4 linked regions of the Homo sapiens genome follow. The protein of the gene in region 1 interacts with the protein of each later gene in a pairwise test. Each region holds a gene or a part of one and is shown on either strand. Other genes may lie near its edges.

The links. The genes of interacting proteins can lie anywhere in the genome.
Region 2: the proteins of CCNK (region 1) and PRR20D interact in a two-hybrid assay, tested with the Homo sapiens proteins (one large-scale study listed by BioGRID).
Region 3: the proteins of CCNK (region 1) and PRR20E interact in a two-hybrid assay, tested with the Homo sapiens proteins (one large-scale study listed by BioGRID).
Region 4: the proteins of CCNK (region 1) and HMG20A interact in a two-hybrid assay, tested with the Homo sapiens proteins (one large-scale study listed by BioGRID and IntAct).

Annotation. Positions count from the first base shown.
Region 1 is NC_000014.9:99,498,409-99,501,908, forward strand, and holds part of CCNK (cyclin-K), read left to right. Parts: intron 1-1,781; exon of another isoform or gene 1,782-2,357; coding exon 2,358-2,463; exon of another isoform or gene 2,464-2,947; coding exon 2,948-3,005; exon of another isoform or gene 3,006-3,500. UniProt on the Homo sapiens protein: Regulatory subunit of cyclin-dependent kinases that mediates activation of target kinases.
Region 2 is NC_000013.11:57,159,450-57,163,431, forward strand, and holds the start of PRR20D (proline-rich protein 20D), read left to right. Parts: upstream 1-1,182; 5' UTR 1,183-1,396; intron 1,397-1,550; 5' UTR 1,551-1,569; coding exon 1,570-1,621; intron 1,622-2,642; coding exon 2,643-3,256; 3' UTR 3,257-3,982.
Region 3 is NC_000013.11:57,165,770-57,169,996, forward strand, and holds the start of PRR20E (proline-rich protein 20E), read left to right. Parts: upstream 1-1,427; 5' UTR 1,428-1,641; intron 1,642-1,795; 5' UTR 1,796-1,814; coding exon 1,815-1,866; intron 1,867-2,887; coding exon 2,888-3,501; 3' UTR 3,502-4,227.
Region 4 is NC_000015.10:77,469,388-77,472,887, forward strand, and holds part of HMG20A (high mobility group protein 20A), read left to right. Parts: intron 1-1,522; coding exon 1,523-1,655; intron 1,656-2,395; coding exon 2,396-2,427; intron 2,428-3,500. UniProt on the Homo sapiens protein: Plays a role in neuronal differentiation as chromatin-associated protein. Acts as inhibitor of HMG20B. Overcomes the repressive effects of the neuronal silencer REST and induces the activation of neuronal-specific genes.

The sequences.
Region 1 (3,500 bases):
CCTGGAGCTGGGAGCAGTGAAGACATTGGGGAAGATGTTTTCCTCTGCAGACAGGAGGGCAATTCTTTAGTGGAGGCAGTATAAGTATTTAGGAAAAATAAGATCATGAGTCCCATGGAACATTTTTTGCCTTAATTAGCTTTATTTTAATTGTGTGGCTTTTCTCTGTAATATTCGTTTCAGCCTTTGTGTTGGGCACTAGACATGAGGCACGAGGCAGAACAGACATGGTCTCTGCTCTCATGGACTCTGCAGTTGAGTGGCAGGATAAATTTTAATCAAATGAGTATATAACTATTTGATGATGAGTTGTGGTGTACGCTGTAAAAGGTCATTTAAGGTGCTGTGATAGCATTCCACCCAGGGACCCAGGCAAGTCCCCCGGATAAATAGGGGCTGAGGGAAGGCGTTCCTGAGGAATGATGTTTGCTCAAAGACCTATAATGACCCCATTAATTGAATATTTGGAAGACAGAGGGAGGGCAGGCCCTGGGCTATCCTGTAACAGTATGTGGGCTACAGCCTGCAAGCCAATTGGTACACTTGGTAAAAAGAATTGTTTCTAAATTTAGAGGAAGTGTTGAAGCTTCTGGGAAGCAGGTGGTGACAATGACATTCAAAGAAAAAAATTGTTTTGTTTTGTTTTTTGAGATGGAGTCTCACTCTTGTTACTCAGGCTGGAGTGCAGTGGCACAGTCTCAGCTCACTGCAGCCTCTGCCGCCCAGGCTCGAGCGATTCTCCTGCCTCAGCTTCCCAAGTAGGGGACTACAGGCGCCTGCCACCATGATTGGCTAATTTTTATATTTTTGGTAGAGGTGGGGTTTCAGCATGTTGGCCAGGCTGGTCTTGAACTCCTGACCTCAAGTGATCTGCCCGCCTCGGCCTCCCAAAGTGCTGGGATTACAGGCATGAGCCACCATGTCCAGCCCAGTTTTTTTTACACTGTGTGAAAGTTTCTAAGATTTTAAAAAACTTTCATGAGAAAATGCTTGGGAAACTAAGATTGAAAAACCTTAGTCTTGCCATGTAATTTGGAATAATAATTATAGAATCATCTCTGTATCCTATAAAATAATACCATGCTTCTAAATGAAAGCCAGTGACCTGTGGGTCTCTGCACCTGTTGATGAGATTTACAGTCCTCTACAACGCCCTGTCTTTGATGCCAAACAAGGAATTCTCTCAAATTGTCCTCCCCGCACACAGTGTCTTGGTTGTGGTTTATGTTGTCTTTAAGCAGTAGGTACAGTCGGCTGTACAGGGGCTGAGTTCAAGACATTAGTTAGAGAGTATCATCAAAGAGGACATTCCATTAACGATAGCAACAGTAAAATATCCAAGGTTAAACCTTGTGGAAACCTCGTTAGTGGGGTGGAAAGGACTTTAAAACAACTAAAGGACTGAAAAGATATTAATAAATTTTTGGAAGGAAACTTCAATATGGTTAAAAATCTCCATTCTCCCTAATTATTCTATAAATCCTCTGAGTTTCCAATGAGAATATTAATAGCATGTATGTTTTCTGTAATGATACTAAGTAAAATGGTTACTAAAATTTGAGTGAGGGGGACATGCAGAACCCAGAAACTGTTTGAAAAAGAGAAGTAATACTGGAGCTATTGTATCCCACCCAAATCCCTTTGATCCTGGTCCAGGAGTAGACAGGCAGATCAGTGAACAGAAAAGATAGTGTGTGTGTAGGCAGACATACACACGTAGTTTAGGAGGTGATTTAGGTAGCATTTTAAATAAAATTGGAAATGATCATTTATTCAGTAAGTGTTGTTGGGATGATTTATTTCAAATAAATGAAAGATTTAAACACAAAATTGATTTGCCCCCATTTGCACGTAATACACTATATGTGTACATGAGTATATATACACACACATACACACACACTGGTACAATTTATCTCTGAGTTTTCATGAGGCTGGCTATCATAAACTCTTTCTTGCTTAAAATGTTTTCAATGAAAATTCCTAAAAGATTGCATTTTTAAAATTTGAGGTCTTGAAAGAAATTACAATTTAGTCAAATTATCAATAACGTAAAGATCTGTTTTGTAAAGGGAGACTCATGTATGTATTGAAAATAATAATATTTTTAAGGATCTTTTGTTTTCAGTATTTTTTTTTACATTACACCTCTGCTTTGTCTTCCTGTTTGAGATCTTTTCAGAATTTATCAGTGTCTCTGAGCATGTTAAAAGTCTGAGTGGGAGAGAAAGGAAGGAAAGGCAGTTGCTAAAATATAACTTGAAGAGAGAATAAATAGACAGGAAAGCTCACTTTTGTAATGCTGCTTGAGACCTGCAATTGTAATTACTGTCCTAACATTTGTGATTGATTTTTAGGAGGAAGTAATGGTTCTGGAGAGAATCTTACTGCAGACCATCAAGTTTGATTTACAGGTAGAACATCCATACCAGTTCCTACTAAAATATGCAAAGCAACTCAAAGGTAAGAAGAAAGTTTTCAGAAGAATTTTTTCATTCTGAAATCAAGTCTTTATAATTTGATGACACTCAAATTACGCTTCTCAAAAGCGGAAAACAAAGTTTGATGTGTGAAATACCAAGGGCATGGCTTGCTCAGTCAATTCAGCATTGCAGCTGCTAATGCTGTTTCCTTTTATGTATAAACAGGCTCTGTCATCCAGTTGCCAAGTGATGGGAGAGGCAGGAAAATGAGGCAGAATTTTTTAAATGGACTAATAAACTTAGCCTTGGAGCCAGGTTTTCCATACATGGTGGTTCAGCGTAGGTCATGAGGAGGAAGAAGGGGTAGGATGTGGACCCACATCATTCATCCTTGTTTCCCACGCAAAAGCTCTTTGCTGTGTATTTGAGTGGTGCTGAACACGTGGTAGGTTTTTAATAAATACTTGATGCTGCCTGTGAATTTTTCTATTGCTATTAATTTACCTTTTTGTCCCCATTTCTAGGTGATAAAAACAAAATTCAAAAGTTGGTTCAAATGGCATGGACATTTGTAAATGACAGGTATACATGTTCAAATGTTGATTAATTACAGTATTTTAAAATAGGCAGAGACTTTATGGACCATTTCATCTAAACCCCTCATTTTGTGTCAGAAGAAACTGACTTGCCCTGGCTTGAGGAGCCAGTTAATGGCAAAGCTGGGGCTGACGTCCAGGTCATCTGCTTCCCGGCAGAGGGTTTCCTTCTGCCCTGCCGTGTCATGGTGTTGTGAGGTGCTGAAATTTTATCACCAGTCTGAAACATAAGTCCAAAACAATACACTGGAGAATTTTGAAAACTAATTACTTAGAGCCCATTTGGTTTTGCAAAAATATACTTCCTGGTATAGTTTTAGAGCCTTAACACTCTTTTGAGAGGCCAGGGATCTAATGAGGGGCCGTGGTGGGAAACAGAATGCCTGTGAATGGAGTTGCTGCCAGCCCCATCCCACTGCAGTCAGTGAAGCTTCTCTTACATTTGACTTCCTCCATAAGATTTCATTTGAAGAAACAGTTG
Region 2 (3,982 bases), on another chromosome or scaffold:
CCCCCCCCCCCCCAAGTAGCCGCAGCGAGCCGAGATGGCACCGCTGCACTCCAGCCTGGGCTACAGAGCGAGAACCCGTCTCTGTAAAAGACACAAGGATGCAAACCAACCAAATAACCCACTGTGGGATCCCCTCCAGCGTCCTGCTGTGTTTCCCGCTGTCTTCCTCCACCCGTGAGTGCACCCACAGCAATAAAAGCCAGCGGTGTGGGTCTCACACGCATCTCCAGCCCCGTCGCCATCGCGCTGAGCTCGACTCTTTTTACAAAAGGCCACTTGACATCCTCACTTGGCAGTTCAAAAGCCCCTTCAACCAGATGTGCGCAAGCCAAGCTCCGCAACTTCCCGTTCAGAGCAGGTTCTCGGTCCACCTCTGCCTGAATGAACCGGCGGGCTACCAAGGCCGCAGTCTCTTCCTCAAGGGCTGTCCACACTGGGTCTCGCTTTCTCTTGGAAATTTCTCTCCCACCAGGGAACTTTCTCCTCCTCTACCTCCCTGAGTCTCAGTCTAACAGCACCCTGCGCCCAACCCCGAGGGCTGCAATAGCCTTCTTGCCTCTCCTGACTTATTCTGCGGACCCTGGGTTGGCGCTCCTTCACAGCCAGGCTGGTCGTTTCTGAAATGTTAACCCGCTGCCGGACACCGTTCCACGGTTTTCCGCTGCCTTGGAACAAGACCAGCTCCTGCGCGGACCCTGCCTCCACCTCGCACCACCTCCGGGCCTGGACTTGGCCTCCCGTCCATTCCCAGAATGTGCCGGGCTCCCTTCCAGTCCGGGCCTCAGCACACTCTCTTCACTCCCCTTCCTCCCTCCCTGCCTCTCCCAACCCGGTTCAGGATGACTAATTTCAAACGTTATGTTCCAGATTTCAGCCCAGATATCCCCGCTTTGGATGCTTTCCTTGACCATGCTCAGATCTAAGCTAATCGCATCTTCCTGTCAGCCGCTTTCAGGGCACCACACCTCATTGTGCTGACACTCAGAGGTCATTATGCAATTTTTTTTCCTCGATGATTAGATTAATCAATCAACCACGGACGTCTAGAAATGGCGGCATCTCAGAAGGGCCCCCATTTGACTGGCAGGGGACTGGCCCAATGCGCCTCGCAAGCCCAGCCAGGCCCGCCCCAGCCGGCCCCCCTCTGACGACGCCTGTCCCTTACGCGACTGCCTTGCTGCCATATAAGAGGGACGGCGCTCGGCCTCCAGCAGTCGGCTTTCTGCTGGGCTCGGAGCCAGAACCTGCTGCGTGCTCCCTCCAGACTCCCTGGCTGCGGGTGGACTACCTCAGAGCTACAGCGGTGAACCTGTGGACACCTCCGACTCCTCGGGCCTCTCTTCGTCGAAGAGTCTCCTAATTTTCAGATCTCCGGAGCCAGCTGTGGGAAGATCAGGTGTGTGTCTGGGGGTCCCGGAGGCGTGGACGGATCTCGGGTGGGTGCAGTTGGGGACAGAATCCTCATTCCCCTAGAAAGGCCACGGCCATCCCCCTGCCTTGTCACCTCTGTCTTCCTAAATCCGTTCTTGCTCTCTTGTTTTTCTCCCCAGCCCCTCCCGCCGATTGCTCATGGAGGAACCAAGGCCTTCGAAGCGACTTCGCTCCATGGCCCCTAATCAAGGTACATCAAACGCCTGCCACTCCTCTCTTTTTAATTTCGTCTGTTCCCCAATTCTTCCCCAATGGTTGACACTCAAACTCAATCAAGCATTCTCTGTTTCACCTTCTCCTAGCCTGCCTCAACCTGGGCTGCTTGTTGGAAGTCAGCTCCCGGGTTCCACATCATCTGGGAAATTCCTTTCCCTCTTCCGAACCGTAATCCCATTTCCCAAATCTGAGATTTGCTGTTGTTGTCGCTGTTTCCTTCTGTTTAGTTTTGTATTACTGTTTCTCCGTAGCAGAGCGAGTCCTCACGCTACGTCTTGATCTATGATAAACCGGTACTTCCACCTTGTTCTTTCCCGGAGGAGTTGGAATTTTCCGGCTGTTGCCACGTTGTTCTCCAAAACTTTTCCCTTCATACGCTGAGTGTCCTAAATCTTTTAATCTTGTCTAGTTTGACAGATGCATAACAATAAAGCATCCACTGAAAGGAAATTCTTTAACATCTTGCTTGTCTGAAACATCTTCATTCTCCCCTCCCAGATTCTTCAGCGAAACTTCGGTTGGACAGGAAATTTTAGGTGGGAAATTCATTTCCCTTGAAATTTCGAAGACATTTTCTGTTATGTTCTAGACTGAACTGCTGCTTTTGAGATGTCTGACTTTTGAGACATGTGGAATCCTAGCCCTTTCCATGTGACTTTTCCTTTCTCTGTCTCCCGCTCTCTAGAATCTGTTAGAATCTTCTCTTTTTCCTCAGCACTCTGAAATTTTCTGGTGAAATGTCTCAGCCACAGCATACCTCTAATTCTCTTATATTTCATCCTTCTTTCCATCATTTTAGGTTTTTGCTTTGTTCTGTGGGAGACCTTCTCAACTTCTTTCTCCAACTTCCGTGGAGAGTTTTGTTTCTTCTCTCACAATTTTAACTTCAGAAATCCCTCTTTTCTCTGAGTATTTATTTGTAAAAGTATCCTATAACTGCTTGACGGGTGAAGTTCCTTCTGTCTCTCTCTGCTCACGCTCCGCTTCTCTTTTAGCCTCAGGTGGGCCTCCTCCAGAGCCAGGCTGCTGTGTTGCGGACCCTGAAGGCTCCGTGGAAGCAGATGGGCCCGCACAGCCAGCCCAACCCGCAAAACCCATCGCTTACGTGAAACCCTTCAGACGGCAGCCCCCAGCTCGCCCAGAGTCACCCCCTCCTGCAGAGAGAGGCCGGCGCCGGGGAGGAAGCCGGCGGCCAGGGCGAGGCCGTGGCAGAAGGGCTGGGCCCCGCGGGGACGCTGGCCAGAGACAGGGGGCAGAAGGCTTGATGGCACCGGACGTGCACATCCAACTGGACCACCATGGAGAGCCAGGCCACCAGGGGGAACCGGAAATCACGGAGACCGCAGCCTTCTCCCTTTCTGAAACAGGTCCTCCGCCTGGAACTGTGCAGGAAGGCCCTGGCCCCGACGTGGCGCAACCTGAGCTGGGGTTTCAGGAGCCGCCCGCTGCTCCTGGGCCTCAGGCTGTTGACTGGCAACCCGTCTTGACCCTCTATCCCTGCATCGGGTTTAGGGCTCTGGGTGACTCAGCGGTTTTACAAGTCATTCAAACCCCCCAGGGCACCTACGTGCAAGGGGTCCCAGTGTTCCTCACCGACATTGCGTATTGACCACTATCTGCCACCCACGTTGTTCCCAGCCTCCCTTCCTTCCACCTGGACGTTCCCCCCAGCCCCACTTCTGCTCCACTCCTCCCCCGACTGGACCTGAAGCCTGAGCTTCCCCTGAACTTGGAGTACGCAACTTACAACATGCAAGCTGCCAAACACCCTTTCTGTACAAGGCGATTGGAATGGAACTGTCATGTACAGTGAAAGTACACGTCACGTTTTTCAGCCAAGAAGAAGCCAACCCAGACAACCTGGAAGAAGTGGGATGCAACAAGGATCACTAAGCATGGAAATTAGGAAACTGTATTCTTAAGTCCAGAGAAGTACGATTCTGGAAAAAGGATTGATGACCTAGAATTAAAATTCCAGAAGACACTCATATAGACATGTGGGACATGCGAAAACTCAGAAGGAGCTAGAAGTTACTAAAGTGCTTCTCTAGTGCCTGGAGACGATAGACTGGCTGAATATAAGAGCAATAAAAATCTAGACTGACACATTTTTAAGTCTCAACGTGGGTACCCTTTGGGAACCACTAAATGAATTGGAATAGAAGGTAAAATTTCAAACAGATTGAGGAAAAAGGGGATCAAAGGACATGTGACGAATCAGACAAAAGGTGTTGGGGTGGGGGGGGGGGCGGTTAACGGAAGCAAGGAGAGTGCATGACTCACTGGAACCGCTAAACCAGGAATCAGTAATTTGACGGCAGTGTCCTTGGCTTCC
Region 3 (4,227 bases), on another chromosome or scaffold:
ACCCAAAAAAATAATTGGCCCGGCATGGTGGCTTGCGCCTGGGGTCCCAGCGACTCGGGAGGTTGAGCGGGACGGACGGCTTGAGCTCAGGCCTTCCAAACAAGCCTGGGCACATAGCGAAACCTCGTCTCTCCAAAAAAATCCGAAAATTATCCCGATGTGGTGGCGCTCACCTGTAGTCCAGCTACTCCGGAGGCCGAGACAGGAGAATCACTTGAACTGATTCTCCTATCTCAGCCCCCCCCCCCCCCCCCCCCCAAGTAGCCGCAGCGAGCCGAGATGGCACCGCTGCACTCCAGCCTGGGCTACAGAGCGAGAACCCGTCTCTGTAAAAGACACAAGGATGCAAACCAACCAAATAACCCACTGTGGGATCCCCTCCAGCGTCCTGCTGTGTTTCCCGCTGTCTTCCTCCACCCGTGAGTGCACCCACAGCAATAAAAGCCAGCGGTGTGGGTCTCACACGCATCTCCAGCCCCGTCGCCATCGCGCTGAGCTCGACTCTTTTTACAAAAGGCCACTTGACATCCTCACTTGGCAGTTCAAAAGCCCCTTCAACCAGATGTGCGCAAGCCAAGCTCCGCAACTTCCCGTTCAGAGCAGGTTCTCGGTCCACCTCTGCCTGAATGAACCGGCGGGCTACCAAGGCCGCAGTCTCTTCCTCAAGGGCTGTCCACACTGGGTCTCGCTTTCTCTTGGAAATTTCTCTCCCACCAGGGAACTTTCTCCTCCTCTACCTCCCTGAGTCTCAGTCTAACAGCACCCTGCGCCCAACCCCGAGGGCTGCAATAGCCTTCTTGCCTCTCCTGACTTATTCTGCGGACCCTGGGTTGGCGCTCCTTCACAGCCAGGCTGGTCGTTTCTGAAATGTTAACCCGCTGCCGGACACCGTTCCACGGTTTTCCGCTGCCTTGGAACAAGACCAGCTCCTGCGCGGACCCTGCCTCCACCTCGCACCACCTCCGGGCCTGGACTTGGCCTCCCGTCCATTCCCAGAATGTGCCGGGCTCCCTTCCAGTCCGGGCCTCAGCACACTCTCTTCACTCCCCTTCCTCCCTCCCTGCCTCTCCCAACCCGGTTCAGGATGACTAATTTCAAACGTTATGTTCCAGATTTCAGCCCAGATATCCCCGCTTTGGATGCTTTCCTTGACCATGCTCAGATCTAAGCTAATCGCATCTTCCTGTCAGCCGCTTTCAGGGCACCACACCTCATTGTGCTGACACTCAGAGGTCATTATGCAATTTTTTTTCCTCGATGATTAGATTAATCAATCAACCACGGACGTCTAGAAATGGCGGCATCTCAGAAGGGCCCCCATTTGACTGGCAGGGGACTGGCCCAATGCGCCTCGCAAGCCCAGCCAGGCCCGCCCCAGCCGGCCCCCCTCTGACGACGCCTGTCCCTTACGCGACTGCCTTGCTGCCATATAAGAGGGACGGCGCTCGGCCTCCAGCAGTCGGCTTTCTGCTGGGCTCGGAGCCAGAACCTGCTGCGTGCTCCCTCCAGACTCCCTGGCTGCGGGTGGACTACCTCAGAGCTACAGCGGTGAACCTGTGGACACCTCCGACTCCTCGGGCCTCTCTTCGTCGAAGAGTCTCCTAATTTTCAGATCTCCGGAGCCAGCTGTGGGAAGATCAGGTGTGTGTCTGGGGGTCCCGGAGGCGTGGACGGATCTCGGGTGGGTGCAGTTGGGGACAGAATCCTCATTCCCCTAGAAAGGCCACGGCCATCCCCCTGCCTTGTCACCTCTGTCTTCCTAAATCCGTTCTTGCTCTCTTGTTTTTCTCCCCAGCCCCTCCCGCCGATTGCTCATGGAGGAACCAAGGCCTTCGAAGCGACTTCGCTCCATGGCCCCTAATCAAGGTACATCAAACGCCTGCCACTCCTCTCTTTTTAATTTCGTCTGTTCCCCAATTCTTCCCCAATGGTTGACACTCAAACTCAATCAAGCATTCTCTGTTTCACCTTCTCCTAGCCTGCCTCAACCTGGGCTGCTTGTTGGAAGTCAGCTCCCGGGTTCCACATCATCTGGGAAATTCCTTTCCCTCTTCCGAACCGTAATCCCATTTCCCAAATCTGAGATTTGCTGTTGTTGTCGCTGTTTCCTTCTGTTTAGTTTTGTATTACTGTTTCTCCGTAGCAGAGCGAGTCCTCACGCTACGTCTTGATCTATGATAAACCGGTACTTCCACCTTGTTCTTTCCCGGAGGAGTTGGAATTTTCCGGCTGTTGCCACGTTGTTCTCCAAAACTTTTCCCTTCATACGCTGAGTGTCCTAAATCTTTTAATCTTGTCTAGTTTGACAGATGCATAACAATAAAGCATCCACTGAAAGGAAATTCTTTAACATCTTGCTTGTCTGAAACATCTTCATTCTCCCCTCCCAGATTCTTCAGCGAAACTTCGGTTGGACAGGAAATTTTAGGTGGGAAATTCATTTCCCTTGAAATTTCGAAGACATTTTCTGTTATGTTCTAGACTGAACTGCTGCTTTTGAGATGTCTGACTTTTGAGACATGTGGAATCCTAGCCCTTTCCATGTGACTTTTCCTTTCTCTGTCTCCCGCTCTCTAGAATCTGTTAGAATCTTCTCTTTTTCCTCAGCACTCTGAAATTTTCTGGTGAAATGTCTCAGCCACAGCATACCTCTAATTCTCTTATATTTCATCCTTCTTTCCATCATTTTAGGTTTTTGCTTTGTTCTGTGGGAGACCTTCTCAACTTCTTTCTCCAACTTCCGTGGAGAGTTTTGTTTCTTCTCTCACAATTTTAACTTCAGAAATCCCTCTTTTCTCTGAGTATTTATTTGTAAAAGTATCCTATAACTGCTTGACGGGTGAAGTTCCTTCTGTCTCTCTCTGCTCACGCTCCGCTTCTCTTTTAGCCTCAGGTGGGCCTCCTCCAGAGCCAGGCTGCTGTGTTGCGGACCCTGAAGGCTCCGTGGAAGCAGATGGGCCCGCACAGCCAGCCCAACCCGCAAAACCCATCGCTTACGTGAAACCCTTCAGACGGCAGCCCCCAGCTCGCCCAGAGTCACCCCCTCCTGCAGAGAGAGGCCGGCGCCGGGGAGGAAGCCGGCGGCCAGGGCGAGGCCGTGGCAGAAGGGCTGGGCCCCGCGGGGACGCTGGCCAGAGACAGGGGGCAGAAGGCTTGATGGCACCGGACGTGCACATCCAACTGGACCACCATGGAGAGCCAGGCCACCAGGGGGAACCGGAAATCACGGAGACCGCAGCCTTCTCCCTTTCTGAAACAGGTCCTCCGCCTGGAACTGTGCAGGAAGGCCCTGGCCCCGACGTGGCGCAACCTGAGCTGGGGTTTCAGGAGCCGCCCGCTGCTCCTGGGCCTCAGGCTGTTGACTGGCAACCCGTCTTGACCCTCTATCCCTGCATCGGGTTTAGGGCTCTGGGTGACTCAGCGGTTTTACAAGTCATTCAAACCCCCCAGGGCACCTACGTGCAAGGGGTCCCAGTGTTCCTCACCGACATTGCGTATTGACCACTATCTGCCACCCACGTTGTTCCCAGCCTCCCTTCCTTCCACCTGGACGTTCCCCCCAGCCCCACTTCTGCTCCACTCCTCCCCCGACTGGACCTGAAGCCTGAGCTTCCCCTGAACTTGGAGTACGCAACTTACAACATGCAAGCTGCCAAACACCCTTTCTGTACAAGGCGATTGGAATGGAACTGTCATGTACAGTGAAAGTACACGTCACGTTTTTCAGCCAAGAAGAAGCCAACCCAGACAACCTGGAAGAAGTGGGATGCAACAAGGATCACTAAGCATGGAAATTAGGAAACTGTATTCTTAAGTCCAGAGAAGTACGATTCTGGAAAAAGGATTGATGACCTAGAATTAAAATTCCAGAAGACACTCATATAGACATGTGGGACATGCGAAAACTCAGAAGGAGCTAGAAGTTACTAAAGTGCTTCTCTAGTGCCTGGAGACGATAGACTGGCTGAATATAAGAGCAATAAAAATCTAGACTGACACATTTTTAAGTCTCAACGTGGGTACCCTTTGGGAACCACTAAATGAATTGGAATAGAAGGTAAAATTTCAAACAGATTGAGGAAAAAGGGGATCAAAGGACATGTGACGAATCAGACAAAAGGTGTTGGGGTGGGGGGGGGGGCGGTTAACGGAAGCAAGGAGAGTGCATGACTCACTGGAACCGCTAAACCAGGAATCAGTAATTTGACGGCAGTGTCCTTGGCTTCC
Region 4 (3,500 bases), on another chromosome or scaffold:
TTCAGCATTCTAATCTAAGCAAGATCTTGGCTTACTGCAACCTTGACCTCCTGGTCTCAAGCACCCCTCCCACCTTAGCCTCCTAAGTAGCACACACCACCAAAACTGGCTAATTATTTTATGTTTTGTAGAGATGGGATCTCACTTTGTTGCCTAGGCTGGACTCAAACATCTGGGCTCAAGCAGTCCTCCTCTTGCCTTGGCCTCCCAACATCCTGTGATTACAGATATGAGCCACCATGCCCGACCCCCTACCCCCATTTATTTATTTGTTTGTTTGTTTGTTTGTTTGTTTTTTGAGATGGAATCTTGCTCTGTCGCCCAAACTGGAGTGCGGTGGCACACTCTCGGCTCATTGCAACCTCCACCTCCCAGGTTCAAGCGATTCTCTAGCCTCAGCTTCCCAAGTAGCTGGGACTACAGGCGTGCACCATCACACCCAGCTAATTTTTGTATTTTTAGTAGAGATGGGGTTTCAGCATGTTGACCAGTGTGGTCTTGAACTCCTGACCTCAAGTGATCCACCCACCTCGGTCTCCCAAAATGTTGGGATTACGTGCGTGAGCCACCACGCTCAGCCTCTACACCCATTTATTGTATTTGTATGGTAACAAATCATTGGTATTGTGTCTGTTATAAATCATACTAATAATAGTATGAAGTTTTTTCTACTAGTTTATAATTTATTACTGTACTTAATTATTTTGGTGCTTAAATTGTACCAGATTTGGCCAGTTGAGTATCCCCTACATCTGGCTCTTACGCGGGACAAAGTGTTTAACATAATTTCTGAGTGTGTTTTCTGTTCATTTAGAAGCAGTATTTTTATACTTTCTTATACTTCATTTTGATGAATGAAAAGGGCAAAGCATTAAACAAAATAATCCTGGTAGATCAATGAACTTTGTTTAAATAATTAATAGCACAAAGCAATCAAAGCATGTAGATATAGGTTCTCTCAGAGTAGTCCATTTTTAGGTCCATAGGATGAGGTCATTATTTTTATGTTCTTTGTGTCTCCCAGCTTCATTGCTCCAACCTCCTGGCTCTTAAAGGGCCAATTGATGTATGACATCATCCCCTCAAAATGGGCTGGAGACAGCAAAACAAAGTAATATTCTGTTCCTTCCCTTGGGAAGACTAAGTGTGCCTATGTGGTGTGCACATCTCATGAGGATGACTCTAGTGGCCATATAGAGTTCTATCTATAGAGTTAGAAGAATAACTCTAATCATCTTCATGAATTTTTTATAAGAATGATCTCAATAGAACTTGTCTTCATTAGGTTAGAAAAGGCAATAAATATTCTAAAAACTCATAATGACCTATTTACTTTTATAATTGAGAGGTTATATTTTATTCTATTCATACAACTCTTGTTTTTCTGATTCTTTTTTAAGGCATATTCCCTATATTCTTTTCTTCCCATGTTCTAATTGTCCTGTTTTCTTCAAATAGGTAATTTAATTTTATTTAAATAGGATCTCATTTTCTTGAAAATAATTCTGTATTTCTTTCCTAGCGCTACCTTGATGAAGCAGACAGAGATAAGGAGCGTTACATGAAGGAACTGGAACAGTATCAGAAAACAGAGGCCTACAAGGTCTTCAGTAGGAAAACCCAGGACCGTCAGAAAGGCAAATCTCATAGGCAAGGTATCAAAACCAGAACCAAATGTATTTGTAGTTTGTTGTGGGTGATGGAGTGTCATAAAGCCAACTGTTAAGAGTGGTAACTATAAAAGATGTGTTTCTGTTTTTTCTCCACTATCCAGTATTCACTTACAAGCATTATCTTGAAATTTTATTAAAATCACATTGCTCTCATTTAGAAATTTCAACTGGGTTTCCGTGTCTATTATCAATGATTTTGACTTGTCCTCCGAGACCCCTGTTAGTTGCCTGCCCTTCTTTTCCTGATTCCCAGTTTAGGCATTTCTCTGCCTGTAAGCAAGCCTATCTACAAAATTATATCAGTAACTTCCCTTTAACACTTCTAAGCCTTTCATGTGTCATTTTTGAAGCACCATCCACAACTAGCCTATTTTTCCTTAGCCATTGCATCTTCTCTATACTTGGGCATCTAGCCTGCTAAAATTATAGATGTTGTATAAGTAGTCTTTGGTTTGTGTCTTCTGTCCACTCTTCCACCCTTTTCTCCCTAAAGTTAAGAACTGTGTCTGCTGTTTCTCTTATGCCTAATTATGAATTCTGTAGGCATGGGGTTCCCTTACTTTTGTTGGCTGACCGATTAATAAAGCCTTAAGGAAAAATATCATATGTTATGAGAATCTACATATACAAGCAGGTTTTATAGTTTGGCAGAGTCGTATACTTGGGTTTTGTTATTGCTTTCTTTTTAAATGTAATGTTCTCTTATTCTTTTATATTTTTAGATGCAGCCCGGCAGGCCACTCATGATCATGAGGTAATTAGCCATCTGTCTACATATCATATATATGTATTTATAATAATGTTGCTTTTTGAAATGCTATTGGATTTTTTTTTTTTTAATGAATGGCAAAGTATTTCCTATCTCGTAATTCAGATTAAATGAGATACTTTAGCTTGGGGGTTCTTAGCATATGGCAGACACTTACGTTGTGTGTCTGTCATTGAACTACAGCCCCTAACCTCAATCCTTTCCTGTGATCTGAGAATTTTATTGGCTTTAAATGCCAAAGATGGCTGGAATTTGGAATGAAGTATAGAAATGAGGGCTAGCTGAAAGCTATAACATGACCATAGTTTATCATCACCAAATACTTAAATCTGACTCTCAGAAAAGTTGTTATTTAAAGAATCCAGCATTTGCTTAAAGCGAACTGTTCAACTACAATGTCGATAGAGCACAAGCGACAGTATCTCAGGTTTGTTTTTTGTTTTGTTTTGTTTTTTGTTTTTTTGAGATAGAGTCTCACTCTGTCGCCCAGGCTGGAGTGCAGTGGCACAATCTCAGCCCACTGCAACCTCCGCCTCCCGGGTTCAAGCAATTCTCCTGCCTCAGCCTCCCGAGTAGCTGGGACTACAGGCTCGTGCCATCATACCCGGCTAATTTTCTGTATTTTTAGTAGAGACAGGGTTTCATCATATGAGCCAGGATGGTCTCGATCTCCTGACCTCATGATCCACCCGCCTTGGCCTCCCAAAATGCTGGGATTACAGGCGTGAGCCACCACGCCCGGCCCAGTATCTCAGTTCTCACACCTCCTTTCCTATTCCCTCACTTCACTAGCACATGTTTGTGTACTGGCTTCTTTCCTCCCACTTGGTTCAGCCCCATTGTTAGGATTTAGGCCTGTGTTTCTGTGTGTGTATGGGATTTAGGTGTGTGTGTTGTTTCAAATTCTGTTTTCTCCTTCAAACTTTTCTTGTTTCCTCTAACTTCCTTTAACCCTCATGGCTCTCTATACTTGTGTTATGTGCTTAGCTGATCTGACCTAGGGGTTTTGAGGTAATTCAAGGGCTCACACTCTTTGGTTGTAATGTCTTTGTGGACAT